7 linked regions of the Homo sapiens genome follow. The protein of the gene in region 2 purifies or fractionates together with the protein of the main gene of each other region. This does not show direct contact. Each region holds a gene or a part of one and is shown on either strand. Other genes may lie near its edges. The genes, in order: PADI4, ELK1, DPM1, PPP6C, TMEM33, CDH3 and ZNG1C.

Region 1 (2,154 bases), on a different chromosome or scaffold from region 2:
TAACAGGATCCCTGGGTGTTCTCTGAATATCTTGGACCCTTTTGAGCCAATATCTGGTCTCAATTTTAATGATCTCAAGCCATCAAGTTTTATTTTCTACAGAGGAATCTGAGTCTTTATGTCGAAGCCATAAAAGGCAATATAAAAAAGAACACCGAGGAGATGAATTACTTCATTCCACAAAAATCCATCGCTATCAGTACGTAGGTGAATGCCCAGTTGTAGGTGAGTTTAAAGAGGGATATGCCCAGATTCTCAGCGGGGCTTACCCCTCCCCTGCTCCCTCCTCCTCCTCTTCTTGGAAAGGTCCCGTGGGAAACTCAGAACGAACTAGGATCATGCAAAATTTTATAGCCCAAATACATGTCTGGGAGCAAAAGACACACACAATAACGTGGCCTTCAGTGCAGCCTGTTAACACTTTTCAGTTTGTTTTGTGATAGTCAATTCAACCATGACAAATGAGTGAATGAATGAATGATACCAACAACATCTTGACCTCATGTACAAAGTGACTTAAAAAAACTTTATTGCAGCTTCTTAGAGCAGAACTGAGTGTGCAGTGCTAGGACCATGTTGGGATCTTCAGAGTGGGAAACTGGGACATCACAGGAGAAGAAAGCAAGCCACTGCTGGGAGGGCTGGCCGCCCCCAGGGAGCCACAATATTCACAAGAGCTCTTGCTTGCCACACTGCAGAGGACCCAGCGACATCTGGCCAGGAGGGAGAGGACGCCAGGGAAGATGGGCTCAGGGCACCATGTTCCACCACTTGAAGGAGAAGGGCTTTCTGCGCACGTTGGTGCCGCAGTGCACCTCCCCATGCCTGATGTGGTAGGTGAAGAAGTCGTTGATGAAGGTGCACTGGAGGCCCAGTGGCTCCAGCAGGGAACACACCTTCTCCTCCAGGCAGCAGCGGCCGTTGATGACGGGCCCGAAGGGCTTGGGGATGCCCAGGTGCTTCCCTAGCACCAGCATGTTCACCTGCAGGGAAGTGAGGGTTCAGGTCACAGGCAGCAGCGGGCAGCCTGCAGCGCAATCTGAGCGGCCCCACCCTTCTCTGACCTTTGGAAATAATAGCCCCTCCAGGGGTGGTGGCTCAGACCTGTAGTCCCAGCACTTTGGGAGGCTGAGGCAGGAGGATCGCTTGAGCCCAAGAGTTTGAGACCAGCCTGGGCAACATGGTGAGACCCCATCTCTAAAAAAAGTATTTTTAAAAATTAGCTTGGCATGGTGGTGCGTGCCTGTGGTCCCAGCTACTTTGGAGGCTGAGGGAGGAGGATCACTTGAGCCCAGGAGGTCAAGGCTGCAGTGAGCTGTGATTGTGCCACTGCACTCCAGCCTGGCAGCTTGGGCGACAGAGCGAGACTCTACCTCAAAAATAAAAATTGCTGGGTGTGGTGGCTCATGCCTGTAATCCCAGCACTTTGGGAGGCCTAGGCGAGTGGATCACCTGAGGTCAGGAGCTCGAGACCAGCTTGGCCAACATGGGGAAACCCCGTCTCTACTAAAAATACAAGAATGAGCCAGGTGTGCCTGTAATCCCAGCTACTTGGGAGGCTGAGGCAGGAGAATTGCTTGAACCCAGGAAGTGGAGGTTTCAGTGAGCCGAGATCATTCCAATACACTCCAGCCTGGGTGACAGAGCGAGACTCTGTCTCAAAAATTAAAACAAAATAAAAATAATAGCCCCACTTTACAAATGAGAAAACTGAGACCCAGACGTGGAAAATTGTTTGCCTAAGGCCACCCAGCTATACTTGGACTACAGCTATTAGACTCCAAGTTCCATACTCTTATTTATTTTAAATTTAAAAATTTAGATTTGGGGGTACATATGCATATTTATTACATGGGTATATTGATTACTGGTGGGCACTGGGCTTCTAGTGTATCCATTACCCAAACAATGAACATCGTACCCGATAGGTAATTTTCCAGCCCTCACCTCGCTCTCATTCTCTCCATTTTGGGGGTCCTCAGTGCCTATTATTTCCATCTCTGTGTCTATGTGTATCCACTGTTTAGCTTCTACCTATACGTGAGAACATGCAGTATTTGATTTTCTGTTTTAGTTCACTTAGGATAATGCCTCCAGCTCCATCAGGTTGCTGCAAAGGACATTATTTAATTTTTTTTTTTTTTTTTTTTTTTG
Region 2 (2,771 bases):
CGGAGCCTGGAGGCCGGAGCCACTTCCCGATCCTGGGGTCCGTTCGGGTCCCGGCCCACCTAGCAGGCTCGGGCTGAGTGGAAGCTCTAGGTCCCGGGGCTTCCGGCCCTTCTGCGGCTGGGAGATCTCAGGGCTGGAAGCCGCATGGCCGCCCGCCTGCCCTGCGGTGTCCATAACAACCGCGGGCAGCCGGGCTGGCACGCCCTCCTGTGGAGGGACTTCTGGCTCGGCCTTGGTGGTTTCTGGCACAAACCCTCTCTCCCCCGCAACTTCCAACTCTTCCTTGGGCCCTTCTACTTTCACTTCTGGGGGCAAAGCCCGGCCCAAACCCGGCTCCACATTAAGCTCTTCCGATTTCAGGTTTGGGGCCTCGGGCGGGGTCAGGATGACCTGGTAGAGGAGCAGGCACAAAGAGGGTGTGTAAGGATTGTTGGGACCACAGGATTCTCCTGTGGGCCACCCAGTGATTTCCCCGGGAAGGTGGCACTTGGTACTCAGGGCATGACTGCACATCAGAGCAAGTCCTCCAACAGGACATAGGACTTCGTCAAGGAAGTAGGGCTTCCTCTGGGGCAGGTCCTCCTATGGGACAGGGGACTTGGGGTGAGACAACCTGAAGCGGGTAGGAATCTGAGGGATACCATCCTCATTCATTAAAACAGTGGTTCTCAAAAATTTACCTTCCTCTGGACCAGCAATATCTGCCTCATTTGGTAACAAGTTAAAAATGCAAATTATTGGGCCCCTCCCCAGCCCCACAAATTCAGAAACTCTGGGGGTGTGCCTGGCAATCTGTGGTTTAACAAGACCTACAGGTGATTCTGATGAGCACTAGAGTGCGAGAACCAGTGCATTAAACATATTCCAGGCACCTACATGTTCGGCAGCTACTAACTGTAGCACAGTATTCTCCCCTTTCTGTCTCAGGATTTGTGTAGCTCTCTGCCCCACCCCTCCTTCTAAGAGGATGTCTTCCTTCCACCATTATCTCCTTTAACGGGACAGCTATGTCTCTTCTACCAGCCTCCCTCGTCATCCGGGGATTACACATCCCTCCTCTTTACTGCCTCCTCTTACTGAATTTCTATATTCCAGTCCTTACCTGCAGAGGCAAGCCGGCCTCTTCAGCCTCCAGACAGGCCTCCAAGGGGCTTGGACTGGTGCTCCTGCTCCCCGAGGGGGGCGCTGCTGCCCCTGCAGGAGCTGCACTGGGGAGCACCACAGCAGGCCGAGGATGAGGGGGTGGCTGCGGCTGCAGAGACTGGATGGTGAAGGTGGAATAGAGGCCCGAGCGCATGTACTCGTTCCGGCTGCTGCGTGCCAAACCGCCTGGGCCTGCCATTCCTGCACCCTTGGGTGTGCCTGGCTTTCCAGAGACAGTGTCCCCTGGGGCGGCATGTATAGCAGCAGGGGCCACATTTGGCATGGTGGAGGTAACAGACACCTCTGGCTGGGGCGGGCAGTCCTCAGTGGAGCACCCTGCGACCTCAGGGTAGGACACAAACTTGTAGACGAACTTCTGGCCGCTCACCTTGCGGATGATGTTCTAGGAAGGGAGGAGAGGAACAGAGGGCCTTAGAGGAAAGGGGCAGGCTGGAGGCAGGGTGTCAGGGGGGAGGAGGGGGGTGGAGTGGCATTTCTCTTCTCCTAGTGGCTTTCTTCCCACTTGCTCCTCTCCGGCTTTCCCGTCCCTCCTCTGTAAGTTTCTCTCTCAGCCCATTTCCTCTCCCATTGGTTTCTACCTCTTTCCTCTCCCGCCAGATTCCCCTTATCTATATCCCTCCCCAGTTCCTCCCCTTTCTCTCTTCTCTCCACAATAATTTTTTCTTTAAGCCCCTTCCCATCCACCCCTTTCCAAGCCTCCCTTTGTCACTCTCCAGGTCCGTCTATCTGATTTTCCCACTCCCTCCACACTGTAGCTCCTCTTCACAATGGGGCCCATGAAGGGCAGTAGGTGTGGGAGCAGGTCTTCTTCCTGGCTCCAAGAACCAGAGGTTCACAGGGCCAGGCCTTGTGGGTGACTGTCAGGACACAGTTTTGGAGACTAGCAAATGCAATAAGACAAGAAAATGAAGTAACTGATATAAATGTTGGAAGAAAGTAAATTAATGTAGATGGATGGGGTGATGAATTATTAATACAGAGGATTATTTGAAGCTAATGATACAGAAGTGGAACAGGGCAAGGTCACTGCAGAGGAGAGGGTGAGGAGGCCTCATTATTAATACCACTGTGGAGGTTGAAGCTAAAATGGTAAGAAAATGAAGTAACTAACAGCAATTAGACAAGAATATTAAAAATACTGGTATAAATATTGGGAGGGGGCCTATATCAAGGCTGGCTTTGCTGGGTCACAGAGCATGTTTGGGGTTTTTCAGGTCTGGTGGGTCTCAGAGATGACCTAGTGTTCCCAGAGGGCAGAGTGAGATAGCCTCATTACTAATATTGTTCTGGAGGGTTGAGCTCAAGGAATAAAATATGAAAATGGAATAAATGCCATAAACTATGAAGGGTGTGCAGCATATGACCAGGGCAGTTCTGGGAGTGTGGAGGCACTAGGGCATTCTGTGGAAGTCTTAGTGCTGGTCAGATATGTCACAGGGTGGGCCTGTGTTTCTCGGAAGAGGAATAAAAAGGGATATTCATGAATATTGTTTGGGAAATTTCAGTAGAAGGATTAAGAAAATGAAATAACTGGTATAAATATTGGGGGGAGGAGAAACCCAGCAGTGGCCTGGGGGTCTGAGAGGGCAGGATGGGGGAAATTTTAA
Region 3 (3,500 bases), on a different chromosome or scaffold from region 2:
TGTAGATGCTAAAGGAGATATTATTTACTACCATTTTCTAGTTAAAACTTTAAGAATAGAAGGAAACCTCTTAAGCATAATAAAAATAACCCAGTCCTAATACAAATACCACACCAAATAGTGAAATGCTGAATCATTTCCAATACATGCATTAATACAGGCATGCTAGCTATCATTAAACATGGAAATGTTAATACAGTAAGATAAGAATTTAGTTAAATGTTAGTAAAATATACACAGTTATATTTGTTTGTAGGCAATATAATTAAATTCTTAGCCCAAAAGACCACAAAACCTCTGTGAATAAGATTTTGGAAGCTGTTCTGAGTTTAAGCTAGATACATAAAAACAGAATCAGATTATTGTCCCTCCAGTTCAGGGAGTTCAGGGAGTTCCCACTAACATCTAGGGAAAAATCCAAGTTCCTTCCCTTGTCCCTCAAGCCCCTATGTGTTTGTTGGCCCCTGCCTCCCTTTCTGACCTCTGCCTTGTGCTCCTTCCTTTTTGCTTTCCATGCCATAGCATGCTTCTGAGTTCACAGAGTTCCATTTTCCTTTGCCTGAAATGCTGTTTCCATGCTCCTTGATGACCATCTGCTGCTCATCCTTCAATCTCTGCGTAAAGTCACCTTAGACCTTTTTTGGTTATATCTCCAGTATACAAAAGCCTCTTTAACCTGTAGAGTAGAAAATGGGCAAAAAGATACAAACAGACCATCTATAGAAGAAATCCAAATGGCTAATAAAAGAAGACGTTCTTCCTGGGATGTAGTCAAGGAAATAAACACAAAATAACTGTGTGTGACCATTTTATTATCCATTAGTTTAACAAAGTTAAAAACTTTTAGAGCAGTAGTAATATCCAGTACCAATAAGATGGTAAAAAATGGACACACAAATATTGCTGAAGGAAGTATAAGTTGCTATAACCCTTTTGGAAAATATGTGTTCAAATTTGGGAAAATATGTGTTAGAATTAAAAATACTCAGGCTTGGCCGGGCGCAGTGGCTCACGCCTGTAATCCCAGCACTTTGGGGGGCCGAGGCGGGCGGATCACGAGGTCAGGAGATCGAGACCATCCTGGTGAACACGGTGAAACCCTGTCTCTACTAAAAATACAAAAAAATTAGCCAGGCATGGTGGTGTGCACCTGTAGTCCCAGCTACTCGGGAGGCTGAGGCAGGAGAATGGCATGAACCTGGGAGGCGGAGCTTGCAGTGAGCCAAGATCGCGCCACTGCACTCCAGCCTGGGCGACAGAGCGAGACTCCATCTCAAAAAAAAAAAAAAAAATACTCAGGCTTCATTTGGGCAATTCCAGTATATTCCATTTTGGGGAGTCTAAGCAGTAATACATTTATAAAAACGTTTATTGTGGCCAGGCACAGTGGCTCATGCCTGTAATCCCACACTTTGGGAGGCTGAGGCGGGCGGATCATGAGGTCAAGAGATTGAGAGCATCCTGGCCAACATGGTGAAACCCCGTCCCTACTAGAAATACAAAAAATTAGCCGGGCATGATGGCACTCGCCTGTAGTCCTAGCTACTTGGGAGGCTGAGGCAGGAGAATCACTTGAACCCGGGAGGTGGAGGTTGCAGTGAGCCGAGATGGCGCCATTGCACTCCACCCTGGCAACAGAGCGAGACTCCATCTCAAAAAAAAACAAAACAAAACAAAAAAAGTTTATTGTAGCACTGTTTATTGTGGTTGAGAGGGTAGGGCACCATGGAAACAACCACAGAGGTGTGTGAGTTGAATATTCTATGAAGTAGTTTTGCAATTATTAAAAAGAATGGGAAAGAGCTCTCTTGACCTGTAGGGATGTCTATGATTCCATGATTTGCATTGTTTTTGTTTTGAGATGGAATCTCACTCTGTCATGCAGGCTGGAGTGCAGTGGCGCAGTCTCAGTCACTGCAACCTCCACGTCCCGGGTTCAAGCAGTTCTCCTGCCTCAGCCTCCAGAGGAGCTGGGAATACAGGCACGTGCCACTACACCTGGCTAATTTTTGTATTTTTAGTAGAGACAGTTTCACTGTGTTGGCCAGGCTAGTCACAAACTCCTGACCTCAAGTGATCCACCTGCCTAGGCCTCCCAAAGTGCTGGGATTACAGGCGTGTGCCACCACATCTGACCCCATGATATGTATTGTTAACTGACAGAAACCAGGTCACAAAATGTACTTTTTTTGCATCCCAATTTTGTAAATGCAACCAAAAATCCTAGGGGTGTATGTTTGTCTTTATCTTTCTCTAGGCAAAGAAAAGTGTGGCAGGACATCAGGCTGTTTTTAGTATTATTTGCTTCAAAGAAGGCAAGAACAGAATGGAAGGGTATTGGGAAAATTAATTATTTTAATTTGAGAGACAAGGTCTTCCATTGTCACCCAGGCTGGAGTACAGTGGCACAATCACAGATCACTGCAGCCTGAACCTCCCTGGCTCAAGCCATCCTCCCATTGCAGCCTCCCAAATAGCTGAGACTAAAGGCATGTGCCACTGTGCCCGACTAATTTTTTTTTTTTTTTTGAGATGGAGTCTCACTCTTGTTGCCCAGGCTAGAGTGCAGTGGCGTGATCTCAGCTCACTGCAACCTGCCTCCTGGGTTCAAGTGATTCTCTGCCTCAGCCTCCTGAGTAGCTGGGATTACAGGCACCCGCCACCGCGCCAGGCTAATTTTTATATTTTTAGTAGAGATGGGGTTCCACCATCTTGGCCAGGCTGGTCTTGAACTCCTGGCCTCGTGATCCACCCGCCTCGGCCTCCCAAAGTGCTAGGATTGCAGGCGTGAGCCACTGCACCCAGCCTGTGTCGACTTCTCTTAAAAGTTTTGTTTGTGTAGCTCATGAAAATGACTGTTGAAAGCTCAGTGGCTTTTTCTAATTGACAGCTAATTTATTCTACAGGAAGCAAAAGGAGGGTAATTTTGATATTGTCTCTGGAACTCGCTACAAAGGAAATGGAGGTGTATATGGCTGGGATTTGAAAAGAAAAATAATCAGGTAGGTACATGTGTTACAACTTCTTTATTAGTATAACTACTGGAAATGTATTCATAGCAAGTATTTGGATTAGCTATCATGCTGCCCGGGATTTGTGGGATCAGGTTATAACTTCCAGTAAATACTCCCAGATAGTTTCTTACAGTTTTTCCTGTGATTAGAGCCTGGATGTTTTTTATTAAGGAAAAATCAGCATAAACCTTTGGACCTTTGGTAGAAATGGTCTCATTCAGCAAAAGTTACTGTACTGGACCTTCAGTTTTAATTTATGTGACCTGTTCTATACTTTTGGTCTAAATATGTAGGGTTTCTCCCCATAATTATAGTGTAATTTTAATTAAGATTGATTTCAGACAGACCTGGGTTAAAGTCTTAACTCACTGCAACCTCTGCCTCCCGGGCTCAAGCAATTCTCCTGTCTCAGCCTCCCGAGTAGCTGGGACTGTGGACCTGCACCACCATGCCTGGCTAATTTTTGTTTCATAGAGATGGGGTTTC
Region 4 (3,500 bases), on a different chromosome or scaffold from region 2:
TAACCTCAAAACACAAGATATATGTTAGCAAGAACTGCACATTTGACTGAAGGTATATATAATACAAAAGTTCAATTTTATGCTTCCAATTTTAGTAGTTCGAGGTTGGTCTCTAACTTTCTGACCTTTGATCATGGCTGTACTTCACATCTTAAAAAGTCTACAACTGGGGGAAACACTACACTGGGGGAAAACATGACTTGGTTTATTCCAGTTTTCAGGAATGTGTTAAGACACTGCTTATATTAATATCCTTTATGTTAGCAAAATACAAATGTTTACTTTGAGAGAGAAGTTACATAGAAACTTCTACACTACACTGGGGGAAAACATGACTTGGTTTATTCCAGTTTTCAGGAATGTCTTAAGACACTGCTTATATTAATATCCTTTATGTTAGCAAAATACAAATGTTTGAGAGAGAAGTTACATGGAAATTTTAGGAAATCAATTCCTAAAGTCTACTCTAAAGAACTGTAATTTTAACAATCAAAGATGACATAATGGGACCTCCATCTAGGAGGTGATGACATGCAAGTGTCAGATTTTTTTATAATCTAAAAAATCCAGAAAACACCTTGAAAAACCAAAAGAAAATCAGCCTGTAAGTAAGTAGCCAAAACAAGACTTTACTCATGGAGCAGCCCCTAATCAGAGTCAATTTACACACATTTCTGCTCATTTACACAGTCATATTTAAAGCAGGGAAATTGCACAGGTGACAGTAAGTCCTGTTGGCATCCTTTAAAGACTACATTGTTTGCAATGTATTATTAAGTCTTATGGCCCCAACTACACTGTATGCATATAGCACTCTATGAGTAATCTGTTCAGCTTTCATTTCCCAGTGAAAAAATTCTACAAATATACATGAGACTAAACACTGACAACAGAATCTAAATATGAGGTATGCCCCTCCTGTTACTGCTTTGAAATTCTTTTTTTTTTTTTTAGACAGAGTCTTGCTCTGTTGCCCAGGCTGGAGTGCAGTGGTGCGGTCTCGGCTCACTGCAACCTTCACCTCCCGGGTTCAAGAGATTCTCCTGCCTCAGCCTCCTGAGTAGCTGGGATTACAGGCACGCACCACCATGCCCAGCTAATTTTTTTGTATTTTCAGTAGAGACGGGGTTTCACCATGTTGGTCAGGCTGGTCTCAAACTCCTGACCTCACGATCCACCCGCCTCAGCCACCCAAAGTGCTGGGACTACAGGTGTGAGCCACCACGCCCGGCACTGCTTTGAAATTCTTACAAACACCCAGCAGATGAAAAATTGAGCTAAATATTTTCTAGCTCATTCATCAGTGATTTGCTGTGACATCATGGACCAACAATTTTATTTTTCTGTACCTTTGCTATTCTCATTCCCACTAAAGAAATGATAAATTTTCAACAATATATGACAGGAGAACAGAAATGAACTGAATGAAAAAAGTGCCTAACACCAAAACATCTCCTGTTAATCATAGTTATTATGAGCAGTATGTGTTTGTACTTTATATCTTCTACCTACCCCCAACCCCACCATTCCACAGAAAACTAATGCTGCATTATTCACTTCACAAATGTAATTATCAACAAATTCCATCACTAATTTGACCACTGCTTTTATTCACCAAAAATGTAAACCAGGAATCATTTGTGTCACAGAGACTGAGGCAACCTAGCTTACCACCAGTTGTGTTTGTTGATGTTGTTGTTGTTTTAATTTTGCAGCACATGTGAAAACACACATGGATCATGGACAGTACAAAACTTAAAAATCTGCTCATGAAATTTTACCTGTCCATGGATATCTCCACACACTGTTACTGGTGTTGATACTGGCTGAACATTTGACTCTTCTAAGAGGAGGTCACAAACGTAGTCACATAGCCGCTATAAAAAGAGAAAATAAAAGGTAAACATTTACTACAACATTAAAACTAAAGATAAAATACCAAAAAAGAAAAATACCAGGTCTAATACTTACAAAACCCAAGTATACTTTTTGATAGGAAAGTACCCTGTGATAATTCGGGGGTTGGATTTCTGTCAGCTGTCACACAGAATTCTTAATGCAATGCAAACTACCTACAGAGACACTAAGGTTCTAGGAGACAGACAGCTTTACAAGAACTGTAAAATGATGTTTTTCACCAAACACACACACACATATACACACACACACACACACATATATATATATATATATATATATATATATATATATATGAAGAAATAATTTTAACAGTAAAAGGTTTTTGGGTTTTTTTGTTTTTTTTTTTTTTAAACGGAGTCTCACTCTGTCTCCCAGGCTGAAATGCAGTGACACGATCTCGGCTCACTTCTACCTCCATCTCCCAGATTCAAGCAATTTTCCTGCCTCAGCCTCCCAAGTAGCTGGGGTTACAGGCATGTGCCACCACACCCGGCTAATTTTTGTATTTTTAGTAGACACAGGGTTTTACCATGTTGGCCAGGCTGGTCTTGAACTCCTGACCTCAGGTGATCCACCCACCTCAGCCTCCCAAAGTGCTGGGATTACAGGCGTCAGCCACCGTGCCCAGCCAGTAAAAGATTTTTATCTGGTAATTTAAAAAATAAATTGCAAACCACACACTTACCATTTGACCCAGCAACTGTAGTCTTGGCAATAAAAACATGTTCAAAATCTGTATATAAATACTCGCAGAAGCCTAATGCATCATAGCCCAAAACTAAAAACAAATCAGATATCCTTCAATGAGTGAATGGTTAAACACATTTTGGTACATCCACACCATGTAATACTACTCAGCAATAAAAAGAAACGAATACTGCCACACAACAACCTGGATTCATCTCAAGGCATTTATGTTGAGTGAAAAAAATGAAACAACAGAAAACTGTCCCAAAAGGTTATATACTGTATAATTCCATTTATATAACCTTCTTTTTTTCCCTTTTTTTTTGAGACAGAGTCTTGGTCTGTTGCCCAGGCTGGAGTCCAGTAGCACAATTTCAGTTCACTGCAAACTGCCTCCCAGTTCAAGTGATTCCCTTGCCTCAGTCTCACAAGTACCTGGGATTACAGGCACACACCATCATGCCCAGCTAATTTTTGTATTCTTAGTAGTTTCACCATGTTGGTCAGGCTGGTCTCAAACTCCCAACCTCAGGTGATCTGCCCGCTTCGGCCTCCCAAAGTGGTGGGATTACAGGCATTGAGCCACTGCACTCGGCCGTGTTTACACATTCTTGAAATGACAAAATTAAAGAAATGGAGAACGGATTAGTTGTTGTCAGGGGTCCAGCAGTTGCAGGAAGGAAGTGGGTGTGGCTATAAAAGGGCAACATGAGGAATTCTTGTGATGATGGACCTGTTCTGTATTTTGACTATAGAGTTGGATACATGAGCCCTTACCCAATAAAACTGCAAAGAACTGAATACACACAAACACACACACACACACACACACACACACACAAACACACACACACACACACAAACACAAGTAAAACTGAAGAAATCTGAACATC
Region 5 (3,500 bases), on a different chromosome or scaffold from region 2:
AACAAACACTCCCCTCCACCAAAAAAATTACACTGGCTCATCAGTAAATCTAAACAGCCTATACTAATTATTGTTCTTGGTTAAAAAACACAATTACAATATCCCAAGAATTATATATATGTTTATGAAATACCAGGTCTGGAATTCTTCCCTAAGAAAAACTATCTGAATTAAGACATTCACTGAAATAACTACAAACAAAATGTGGCAACAACCTAATGTGAACTGTAAGGAAGTAGAATTGAACAACTTATATTATGGTTATTTAATGGATTTAATATGCAACTACCTAGAATCTTGGTTATGAAAATTACATAGCAACTCTGAAAAAAGCAGAATATAAAACTACACATATTATTACAATTGTATTTTTTTAAATTGGAAGAAATATATTAAGATGCCAAATGTGTTTTATTAGGTTTTTTAGCCTTTTCTTCTAAATTGTATCATTTTCATTAAAAAAAATTTACACGATTACGAACTTACCACTAAACAAATGCAACATCCATTTTCCCTAATAATTTGACAAATTTTTATCTTTTTAAAGTGAAAATGTAAGAGACACAACATAGAAAATATAAATAGAAAATATTCACTTAAAAAACAAGTTTCCCATCATCCAAGTTAGCCCCTTCCTCAAACTTATACCACAATCTCGAATATGTCCTTCCAGAAATGTATATATACAAGTGTATATAATGACTAACATTGATAGTGCTCACTTTATAATTCACTAAATCTGTTTAACAACTCTAGGACAGAGATGGTTTATCATTCCCAAAAAACTGAGACAGAAACGTCTATGTCCTTACACACATACACCCCACTAAATATAAATGGAGAACACCCTACACAACTAAGTTTAACTTATTATATCTTGGTGATTATCCCATATCACAACACATAAATTACCGCAATCTTTTTTACAGCTTCAAATATACCATCTAATGCTTGGACTATTATGTAACAAACTCCGTACTAATGAATATTTGGGTGGCTCCAGTCAATTAGAAGAAAAGCCACAATGATCCTTTTACCTGTCTTTGCACACATGTGCAACGCATGTGTAAGATAAACTCAGACAATGCATCAATTTTTAAATACAGAGCTTGAAGCATTACTGGCACAAATGTAACTTGATAAAGCCTCCTAATATTAGACTGTGTGTATACCAGAAAGGGTAGCATATTAAGAATAGCAGTAATGTAAGACTGTTCTTAATTTTATTGTTTAGGTCATATTCAAACTACCTACTTAAGGCATTAACAGCTTTTCCTAATAGGAATTAAGTACCACTTTATAAGCTGATTTTAATTTTTCAAACAAAATTATTTCTCTATTTAAACATTTCTGGTAAATTCTCATCTTTTTTACAGTAATCTTAAAAATTAAGATGGTAAGTTTGTACAAATAAATGTTTAAATTAAACATTTAAGGAGCACAATTGAATTAATGTACCAACGCAGTCAAAACCTGGTGCTCCTAACAAAAAATTCACTATAGTTCCAAAGTGAAGTTTTTGTCTAAGTTTGCATGGCATCTCAGAATTTCATTAAAATTATTTTAATCTGATTTAAGAGGAGCATAAGAAATTATTTTGCTTACTAAACAGAATCTGGAGGTTTCAGGATATAGACATCAATTATACCCATACAAAAAAACTAGTCTCGGTATCTATCTTTTTTTTTTTTTTTGAGAGGGAGTCTTGGTCTGTCGCCAGGCTGGAGCGCAGTGGCACGATCTCGGCTCACTGCAACCTCTGCCTCCAGGGTTCAAGCGATTCTCCTGCCTCAGCCTCCCGAGTAGCTGGGACTACAGGCACACACCACCAGGCCCAGCTAATTTTTGTATTTTTAGTAGAGACGGGGTTTCACCACATTGGCCAGGATGGTCTCGATCTCTTGACCTCATGCTCTGCCAGCTTTGGCTTCCCAAAGTGCTGGGTTTACAGGCTGTGAGCCACCGTGCTCGGCCTGGTATCTACCATTTTAACTTTCATCTAGTTACATGAAACAAATCACAGAACCTGTGATCCTGACCCAAAAGCAGGATTAAGTGACACAAAAACCCGAGAAAAATGAATAACAAAAGGGAGCAAAAAGTTCCTCTTACTAATTAATAATTAAAGTTTCTAAGTGTAGATCAGGATCACAAAAGAAAGAGGTGGAAAGAAAAACCTATAAATGATGGAAAAAATATTAGAATGTTGATGTTGTCCCTTTTTCTGCTGTCCCAGATTACATTACCCTTTTCTTTTATATGCTTTCAGCTTCTAGGATAAGAGGATGCTTTTATTAAATTTTAGGGTCAAGGTTTTAGAGTTAATTTACAAATACAACTGCATCAAATCTAGTTGGGACCATACAACTTAAGCAACACCAGCCAGTCCTGGAGTTCTCAGAAGAAAGCACTACTTAAAAGAATGAAACAGATATATATTTATAAGGAAATCTATAAAACTCTGTTCTTAGTTTGAAGAGACTGCTATAGAAAGAAGTAACTGTCAAGTACATGAAAACTTTACTAGTTAATCAAGGCAAGGTACATTTAAAATTATAAAATATAACTATATGATCAATAAGGACATTTGTTACAAACTAACAAAATTATGAAAAACAGGTAATACAGACATTTTAAAGAACAATTTAGCATGGTCCATTAAACACAAAAGGCACCTAGCTTGTACTAGCAAAATCAATTCTGGTATCTATGTTAAAGAAAACACTGGCATTAAGTATAAGCAGGTAAAAAATATTTACTGCATCAATATTTGGAAAACTGAAAATTTGGAAACATATTCCATGATCAGGAGATAAGTTGGAATGTTATACGGCTAAAAAAAAAAAAAAAACAGAACTGGATATGCCAAATCAATTAGGTTATGAAAACATACAAGTGGGAAAAAGGTACAGAATAACACTTTTTTTTTTCCTTTTCTTTTTTTTTTTTTTTTTTGGTGAGACAGAGTCTCACTCTGTTGCCCAGGCTGCAGTGCAGTGACGTGATATGGGCTCACTGCAACTTCCACCTCCCAGATTCAAACAATTCTCCTGTCTCAGCCTCCCGAGTAGCTGGGATTACAGGTGTGCACCACCATGCCTGGCTAATTTTTGTATTTTTAACAGAGACAGGGTTTCACTATGTTGGTCAGGCTGGTCTTGAACTCCTGACCTCAAGTGATCTGCCCACTTTGGCCTCCCAAAATGCTGGGATTACAGGCATGAGCCACTGTGCCCAGCCAGAATAACATCTTTGATGTAAAATAAGAACTAAACAAATTAACAAACAAAACTCCACATCCATAATATATATGTTCTACAAATTTGTATAAGTATTTTTAAAGGACTACATACATAGACACATATTAAACTCCTTACACCTTTGGGAAGAGGACAAAATTGCAGCAAGAATTCATATAGTCAAATGCTATTTTAGCTTTTATCTGTAATGTCTCATTACTTGTAAAACTAAAAATTGATAAAGCAATCATCTGGGTAGCA
Region 6 (3,483 bases), on a different chromosome or scaffold from region 2:
AACCTCCACCTCCCGGATTCATGAGATTCTTGTGCCTCAGTTTCCCAAGTAGCTGGGATTATAGGCGCCACACCCAGCTAATTTTTGTATTTTTAGTACAAAAATGTGTGTGTAGGCCGGGCACGGTGGCTCACGCCTATAACTCTGCACTTTGGGAGGCCGAGGCGGGCGGATCAGGCCAGGCTGGTCTCGAACCCCTGACCTCAAGTGATCCACCCACCTCAGCCTCTTAAAGTGTTGGAATTACAGGCGTGAGCCATGGTGCCCAGCCCCAACTTCATTTCCTTTTGGTTTCTCCATCCAAAGTCTGAGGCTTCAGGCTCCTTGGCCTCATCCTTCAGAGTCTTGGCAGCAAACCTGAGTGTGCAGGAGCATCCCACGGAGGGCTTGTCAACCCACAGCAGGGCCCTGCCTAGAGGTTCCGATTCAGCAGGTGGCACCGATAACTCCGGTTCAGGGTCTGTGCTTTGAGCAGAGACGCTTTACAGAATTAGTCATCCTCATGGAAGGAAATGTTTATTTCAACATCAGCAATTTCCTCAGCTTCACTTCAGATTCTTTTGGCTAATTGCAAAGATGACTTTGAACTTCACGTTAACAAGGGCACAAACAGAATTGTTCTATCACTGCTGCCTATTCCTGATTCCTGCATTTATGCCCTGGTATTGTCAGGAATGTTCCAATTTCACTGACATCTTGGGTAGGTTCTCTTAATTTTGTTTTGCTTGATTTCGATGATGACCAGATGTCATTTAAAAAAACAAATACAATGTGGCCATTCTTTAAAGGAGAAAGTCCCCTCAGAGGGTGATTGTGAGGATTTAGAGGAAATAATCGAAGTCCTGTCTGGCCTTTAAAAGTACTGAATAAATGGTAGCTGTTACCAACTAACAGATTGCATGGACCATGTGCCAGATATTAATTCACTTAATCTCCACAAAAACTCCCCATTTTGTAAATGTAAAATCTGAGGCAACTGGAGGTTAAATGATGTGCCAGCGCTGGGCGCGGTGGCTCAAGCCTGTAATCCTAGCACTTTGGGAGGCCGACGTGGGCGGATCACGAGGTCAGGAGATCGAGACATCCTGGCTAACACAGTGAAACCCCGTCTCTACTAAAAAAACACACACACTCAAAAAAAATTAGCTGGGCATAGTGGCAGGCACCTGTAGTCCCAGCTACTCGGGAGGCTGAGGCAGGAGAATGGCGTGAACCCAGGAGGCAGAGCTTGCAGTGAGCCAAGATCACACCACTGCACTCCAGCCTGGGCGACAGAACGAGACTCCGTCTCAAAAAAAAAAAAAAAAATGTGCTAGCAAGTAGCAGAGCTGGCTGTTCCCCAACCCCTGCCTTTCAACAGGGACCCCTCCAGCATAGAAGAGGAAGTCGTCACACACTGTCCTGCAGGGAGGGCAGCCGCTGTTCCAGAAGAGACCTTGCTGGGGCTGTGGAGGGGCTCAGCCTTGGGGTAAGAGGTTAATGGTTCTCTCTCATGGAGCAACTGACTTTGCAAAGGAGGGCAAGTCTCCCCTCCCTGAGCCCACTTAGGCATGGAAGCTGACCCTGAGTATCCCCTGCCATTGAGAGGAAGCTTGGGTGAAGCCAGCAGGGTAAACAGAGCCCACTCTTTTTGCAGAACTCTGAAAATTCTAAAAACCATTGAATTGTAAACGTTAAACAAGTGAATGGTATGGTATGTGAGTTAGATGCCAATAAACCTTCTATTTAGAAAACAGTTCACTCCCCAGGCACCTCTGGGAAAAGTTTCTTTAATAAAAAAGTTCTAGTACATATACACGATTGTCCTCACCCTTCATCTATAGCAACGCAACAGGGAAAATAAAAAATAAGGGGCAACCTAGGCACACTCAGTATAAAAACGCAGAGATCCATCCGAATGGGAGGCATTGGGGTCTGGAAACCAGAAATGCAGGACGGCCAGTGGGCCCAGCAGCTCTGGGCTGCACTTTTGAAGAACTTTCTCTAACGTTTTGAAGATAGCATTAAAAAAAAAAATTAAGTTGCACCAGGAGGCCTAAGAAGGTTCCATTCCAGAGAGAAAGTCCACTGTAGGTCAGTCACAGCAGGCCCAGGCCCAGGACACAGGGTTGAGCATTTTACGGCAGGTAAGAGGCTTCTGGAAACTTGGCCTCTGAGGCAACCCTGGCCCAGGTGGAGAGGTTTTCAGTGCTGAAGTCAAACTGCCCACATTCCTCCATCCTGAAAGGCTAAGGAAGCCACCACTCTAACGTCAGACTCATAGCCTGTCTCCGCCAAGTTGCTACGGCCACTTCCTGACAAGCTCCGAAGTCCTCAGCTGAAGGGGGAACTGAGACCCCTTGGAGATGCTCTGTGGCCTGACGTTTGGTCCCCAGCCCTGCAGGCAGGCCGCCTAGTCGTCCTCCCCGCCACCGTACATGTCTGCCAGCTTCTTGAAGCGGCTGCCCCACTCGTTCAGATAATCGTAATCTTGGTCTTGGTCGGAGGCGGAGGAGGTGAGGGAGCTCAGGGACGCGGCGTCGGAGCCGCTGCCCTCATAGTCGAACACCAAGAGGGTGTCGTAGGGCGGGGCTGTGGGGTCTGTGTTAGCCGCCTTCAGGTTCTGCGGCAACAGAGAACAGGTAGTTAGGAGCGGCGGGTCCTGCCTCTTGCCAGCTGCAAGCCTCCATTTCCTCTCTGTGAGCCCCTCTCTCCCCTCCCCTAAAGGTTTTGGAGGTAGAAATGAAAGAATGCGTTATTCATGCAGAATTCATTCACTCAGGGACCAGCAGACAGCAAGTGCTCAGTGCAACACAGGCCAGGGGGTAAGGGCAAGGACTGAAATCAGACAGCCCGGGCCAGAACTCACACCACACACTAGCTTTGTGGCCTTGGGCGAGTCCCTTAACCACTCTATGCCTGTTTCCTTGTCTGTAAAATGACAATAGTTTTTTTCTTCCTTTTTTAAAGGATGCATGCCTGTGACACAGCCTCGGGAGGTACTGAGGACATGTGCCTCCGTATAGTTTTAAAGGAACAGATGAATGAGTAAATGAGTAAATACCTGTAAAGCAGTTATTAGAATAGCACCTCGCAACAATAGCTATCATTATCTAATAAGCGCTACATGCTAGGTCAGTAGTTCCGAAACTTAAATTATCTGGAGAATCTTTTATAAATTCTGAAGCCCAGGCCACACCCAGTTCAATTATATCACAATCTTTGGAGGTGAGCTGAGGCATCAGTGGTTTCTGAAGGTGCCCAGGTGATTCCAACACGCAGGCAGGGTCGGGAACCACTGTGCTGGCACTGTCCTAGCTGCCTGCTCGTTCAATCCTTGAAGTCTTCTACAGCAGAGGCTCCAAACTTTGCCCCCCAGGTGCAATCACCTGGGATCTATAATCCAAACCCAGGTAGTCTGGCTCCAGAGTATTCAACTGCTATATGTGTTGAATAAATGAATAAATCATTCCTAATTTTTTTTTTTTTAAAGATGGAATCTCC
Region 7 (3,500 bases), on a different chromosome or scaffold from region 2:
AAAATTTATTAACTATAGTAGTTTAATATAATAGCTAAAGGGACACTGATATTAAACACCATATAATTCTATTTTACATTAGGATGCAAGGTTTTAAATTCCTTTTTTCTTATTTTATCAAAAGTGAAGGAAAATCCTTAATAGATTACATTTTGGTTGTTCAAGAAAGTCTGTTATAATTTTATCCTTGCCAAAACATTTGACACAAAGTCAAATACCTAAGGGAGTAAATGATGCCGAAGAGATTTAATTCACTAGAATACACAAAATTAACAATACAAGTAGTCATTTTTATAATTCATTCAACAAATATTTGAGTGCTACTATGTGTTGGGTAACTCTTCTAGGGTCTATGGTAGACTAGTGATCACTGTCCTTGGAAACTTAACTACTAGAACATAATGTAAGGTTTTTCTTTTTTGATAGTCATTTATTTTTTATAAGGTTGAACACTTAGAAGTATGACCAATGACAGATTAAATTCAGAATAATCATTTTTTACATATGAGACTTTCATGCACTAGAGATTAAATAAGCCCTGACATCAAAAGCAATAAAAACTCAATAAAAGGACCAAAACATTAGAGCAGATAGAAAAGACAGCAAGAAACACTTTAAGAAAATGCTTCCTAATAAGTTTATTTTCTATTTGTTTGAAAATACAATGAAGCAAACTGTGTAAATTCAGTTAAATTACTCAAGAAAATTAAAGCTGGAAATATAATCAATAAACATTTCTAGTAAACCATGTACACAGTAAACACATTCCTCACTTCACTGAACAGCAGAGGCAACCGTTTCTAAGTTCCAGCCACTCTTCATAGAGCTCTCCACCTTGGCTGACAGCTAAGGATTTCTCCAGCGCACTTCCTAGAATAAATAACAAACAGCACTCTTTAGCTTATGTCCATTAGCCAACAAAAAACAAAGATGAGGATAACTCAATAATGGAGATCTTAAAGCAGAAACTGCATTTTATAACTTATATTCTTTCACTTTATTCATGCAGCCTTGATACCTAAATTACAGTACACTACATTATTTTAGCTTTTATTTAAGATGTCTTAAGCCCTGAAAAAGACACATCCTAAACTGATAAACATACCTACTTCCTCCTTAGGCCTCTTACTTGGCCACCCCCATTTCTTAATGAAGGCATTTTTTTCTTGTCCAGGGTAAACTTTCTAAATCGACTAGTATGTTTTATATACTGGATTCTGTATGCCCTTCAACCTCTTAAGAGACTGCCTTATCTTTTTCTTTTCATTCTTCTTCTAAATTGTTTCTGTTAGACAAACTGCTGAATATTCCCAATGAGTAAAAACCCTAGTTCATCCTGAGGAAGGTTTTTGGCCAGTGTACCATGTGCTCATTTAAAAATTAAACTTATAGGGAGGCCAAGGCGGGCGGATAACGAGGTCAGGAGATCGAGACCACCCTCGCTAACACAATGAAACCTCATCTCTACTAAAATTACAAAAAATTAGCCAGGTGTGGTAGCGGGCGCCTGTAGTCCCAGCTACTCAGGCGGCTGAGGCAGGAGAATGGCGTGAACCCGGGAGGCGGAGGTTGCAGTGACCCGAGACTGTGCCACTGCACTCCAGCCTGGGCAACACAGCGAGACTCCATCTCAAAAAAAAAAAACCTAAACTTTTAGTCAAATTCACATATTTTCCTAGCAATACTTACTTAAGAAAGAATAAACTATATTTGAAATGCTTGTTATCTATAAGAATTATTTTAAATGTTTTACTTTTCCTCTAATAAAGAAATATACCAAACGGTGAAGTTCTAAAAGTCCACTAAGCAAATGAGCTCCCATAAAATCGAGTAGTTTTACACTTACATATTTTTTATATTTCAGCTAGGTATTAATAAAGAGCTTCTAAAGAGGTTGCTACAGAATTCGGACTATATACAGAACATTAATGAAACATGAAGAAAAGTATTGAGAATGCTGTGAAAAATAAAATTGTGAAAATGATCCAGGAAAAAATAAAGAAAATAGTAAGAATAAATGTAATCAGTGTGCAATAGGTTATTTAATAAGATGATGAAAAAAACAGTCTGTTATTAGAAATCTCAGGATTTTTGCCTAAAAAGCACTTTTCTCTTTAGTTTATTAAAATCAGAAATCGAATATAACTGGAATATAACTGGCTTCCCATCCTGTTCATAAAACCTAGCTCTTTTACTTTTTACAACTGAAAAAAATAGTACATTTTAAAAGAAATCGTCTAATAGATATTGTTTTTTGGCTAGAAGTGAGCTTTGATTACAATTCATACTTATGAAGAAAAACTCCTATAAAGATAACAGAAGTATTGTGTCTAGAGCTATTTTTTTTTACTACAGTTTAATATTTGAGTTGAGAAGTTAAGCACACTTATTTTCACAGATAAAATACATGAGGATAAAGACCATATGTTTACTTTCTTTTTAAAATATTGAGTTTTAACTGCATTGCAGATAATAAACATTAAACAAAGTTAACTAATAACAGAAGCATTTTCAAATATTTTTCATGAGTTGCAATAGAGTCCATACAAAACTGCCTTTCTAATTCCTAAAAAAGACATTTTTTGGCCAGGCATGGTGCCTCACGCCTGTAATCCCAGCAACTTTGGGAGGCCGAGGCGGGTGGATCATAAGGCCAGGAGCTCAAGACCATCCTGGCCAACATGGTGAAACCCTGTCTCTACTAAAAATACAAAAATTATCTGGGCATGGTGGCGCATGCCTGTAGTCCCAGCTACTCGGGAGGCTGAGGCAGGAGAATCACTTTAACCCGGGAGACAGAGGTGGCAGTGAGCTGAGATTGCACCACTGCACTCCAGCCTGGCAAGAGAGAGACTCCATCTCAAAAAAAATAAAATAAAATAAAAAATAAACGTTTTTTCATATGTCTAGATTTTTACTTCTGGAGTCATTTATTTCATGTAAAAATGTAGTTTAATTCTGTTAATAAGAATTCCAAAGTTATACAAAATAAAATTTTATTAAAACTAATTTCAGTATCTCAACCCATATAAATCTTAACAGAAATTAATCTAATTTTTCTAAAGCTATCCACATCAATACAATACCTTGCATTTTCATTTTTAAATATGGAATATCAATTCACCAGAGGAATAAACAGTCACACAAAATCTTGCAACATGACATTTATTGAACTTTACTTACCTTCCCCAGATTCATTTAAAATGACCGCTACTCTTTTACTATGTTGCTCTGTCAAAATATAGTTCAGAAGTGTTGTCTTCCCAGCACCTATAAAACATATTTTTTGTAAATAAAAAAATTCAAAATAATTTTAAAGATACAAAAAACATATAAAGAATCCTAACGTTTTTGAGAATTTGCATGCTATTTTTCATATATTATTTTAGTATAGAATATCCTAGAGGATAAGATTAAAGCATCCTTTGAAACCTGTTGCAAAATACTTTATGTAGACATAAAATTTTATAAATATTTACAAACACTCCTACAAGTTGAAA

The links.
Region 1: the proteins of ELK1 (region 2) and PADI4 purify together in Homo sapiens (affinity purification with western blotting; one study listed by BioGRID). This does not show direct contact.
Region 3: the proteins of ELK1 (region 2) and DPM1 purify together in Homo sapiens (affinity purification with mass spectrometry; one large-scale study listed by BioGRID and IntAct). This does not show direct contact.
Region 4: the proteins of ELK1 (region 2) and PPP6C purify together in Homo sapiens (affinity purification with mass spectrometry; one large-scale study listed by BioGRID and IntAct). This does not show direct contact.
Region 5: the proteins of ELK1 (region 2) and TMEM33 purify together in Homo sapiens (affinity purification with mass spectrometry; one large-scale study listed by BioGRID and IntAct). This does not show direct contact.
Region 6: the proteins of ELK1 (region 2) and CDH3 purify together in Homo sapiens (affinity purification with mass spectrometry; one large-scale study listed by BioGRID and IntAct). This does not show direct contact.
Region 7: the proteins of ELK1 (region 2) and ZNG1C purify together in Homo sapiens (co-immunoprecipitation; one large-scale study listed by IntAct). This does not show direct contact.

Annotation. Positions count from the first base shown.
Region 1 is NC_000001.11:17,362,351-17,364,504, reverse strand, and holds the end of PADI4 (protein-arginine deiminase type-4), read right to left. Parts: intron 984-2,154; coding exon 750-983; 3' UTR 501-749; downstream 1-500. UniProt on the Homo sapiens protein: Catalyzes the citrullination/deimination of arginine residues of proteins such as histones, thereby playing a key role in histone code and regulation of stem cell maintenance.
Region 2 is NC_000023.11:47,637,793-47,640,563, forward strand, and holds part of ELK1 (ETS domain-containing protein Elk-1), read right to left. Parts: intron 1,547-2,771; coding exon 1,103-1,546; intron 391-1,102; coding exon 1-390. UniProt on the Homo sapiens protein: Transcription factor that binds to purine-rich DNA sequences. Forms a ternary complex with SRF and the ETS and SRF motifs of the serum response element (SRE) on the promoter region of immediate early genes such as FOS and IER2.
Region 3 is NC_000020.11:50,941,533-50,945,032, reverse strand, and holds part of DPM1 (dolichol-phosphate mannosyltransferase subunit 1), read left to right. Parts: exon of another isoform or gene 1-676; intron 677-2,906; coding exon 2,907-3,002; intron 3,003-3,500. UniProt on the Homo sapiens protein: Transfers mannose from GDP-mannose to dolichol monophosphate to form dolichol phosphate mannose (Dol-P-Man) which is the mannosyl donor in pathways leading to N-glycosylation, glycosyl phosphatidylinositol membrane anchoring, and O-mannosylation of proteins; catalytic subunit of the dolichol-phosphate mannose (DPM) synthase complex.
Region 4 is NC_000009.12:125,169,304-125,172,803, forward strand, and holds part of PPP6C (serine/threonine-protein phosphatase 6 catalytic subunit), read right to left. Parts: intron 2,714-3,500; exon of another isoform or gene 2,645-2,713; coding exon of another isoform or gene 2,606-2,644; intron 1,878-2,605; coding exon 1,782-1,877; intron 1-1,781.
Region 5 is NC_000004.12:41,945,429-41,948,928, reverse strand, and holds part of TMEM33 (transmembrane protein 33), read right to left. Parts: intron 1-3,500. UniProt on the Homo sapiens protein: Acts as a regulator of the tubular endoplasmic reticulum (ER) network by modulating intracellular calcium homeostasis. Mechanistically, stimulates PKD2 calcium-dependent activity. Suppresses the RTN3/4-induced formation of the ER tubules.
Region 6 is NC_000016.10:68,697,310-68,700,792, reverse strand, and holds the end of CDH3 (cadherin-3 isoform 1 preproprotein), read right to left. Parts: intron 2,701-3,483; coding exon of another isoform or gene 2,626-2,700; exon of another isoform or gene 2,603-2,625; coding exon 2,393-2,602; 3' UTR 501-2,392; downstream 1-500. UniProt on the Homo sapiens protein: Cadherins are calcium-dependent cell adhesion proteins. They preferentially interact with themselves in a homophilic manner in connecting cells; cadherins may thus contribute to the sorting of heterogeneous cell types.
Region 7 is NC_000009.12:68,244,983-68,248,482, reverse strand, and holds part of ZNG1C (zinc-regulated GTPase metalloprotein activator 1C), read right to left. Parts: intron 3,271-3,500; coding exon 3,184-3,270; intron 871-3,183; coding exon 774-870; intron 1-773.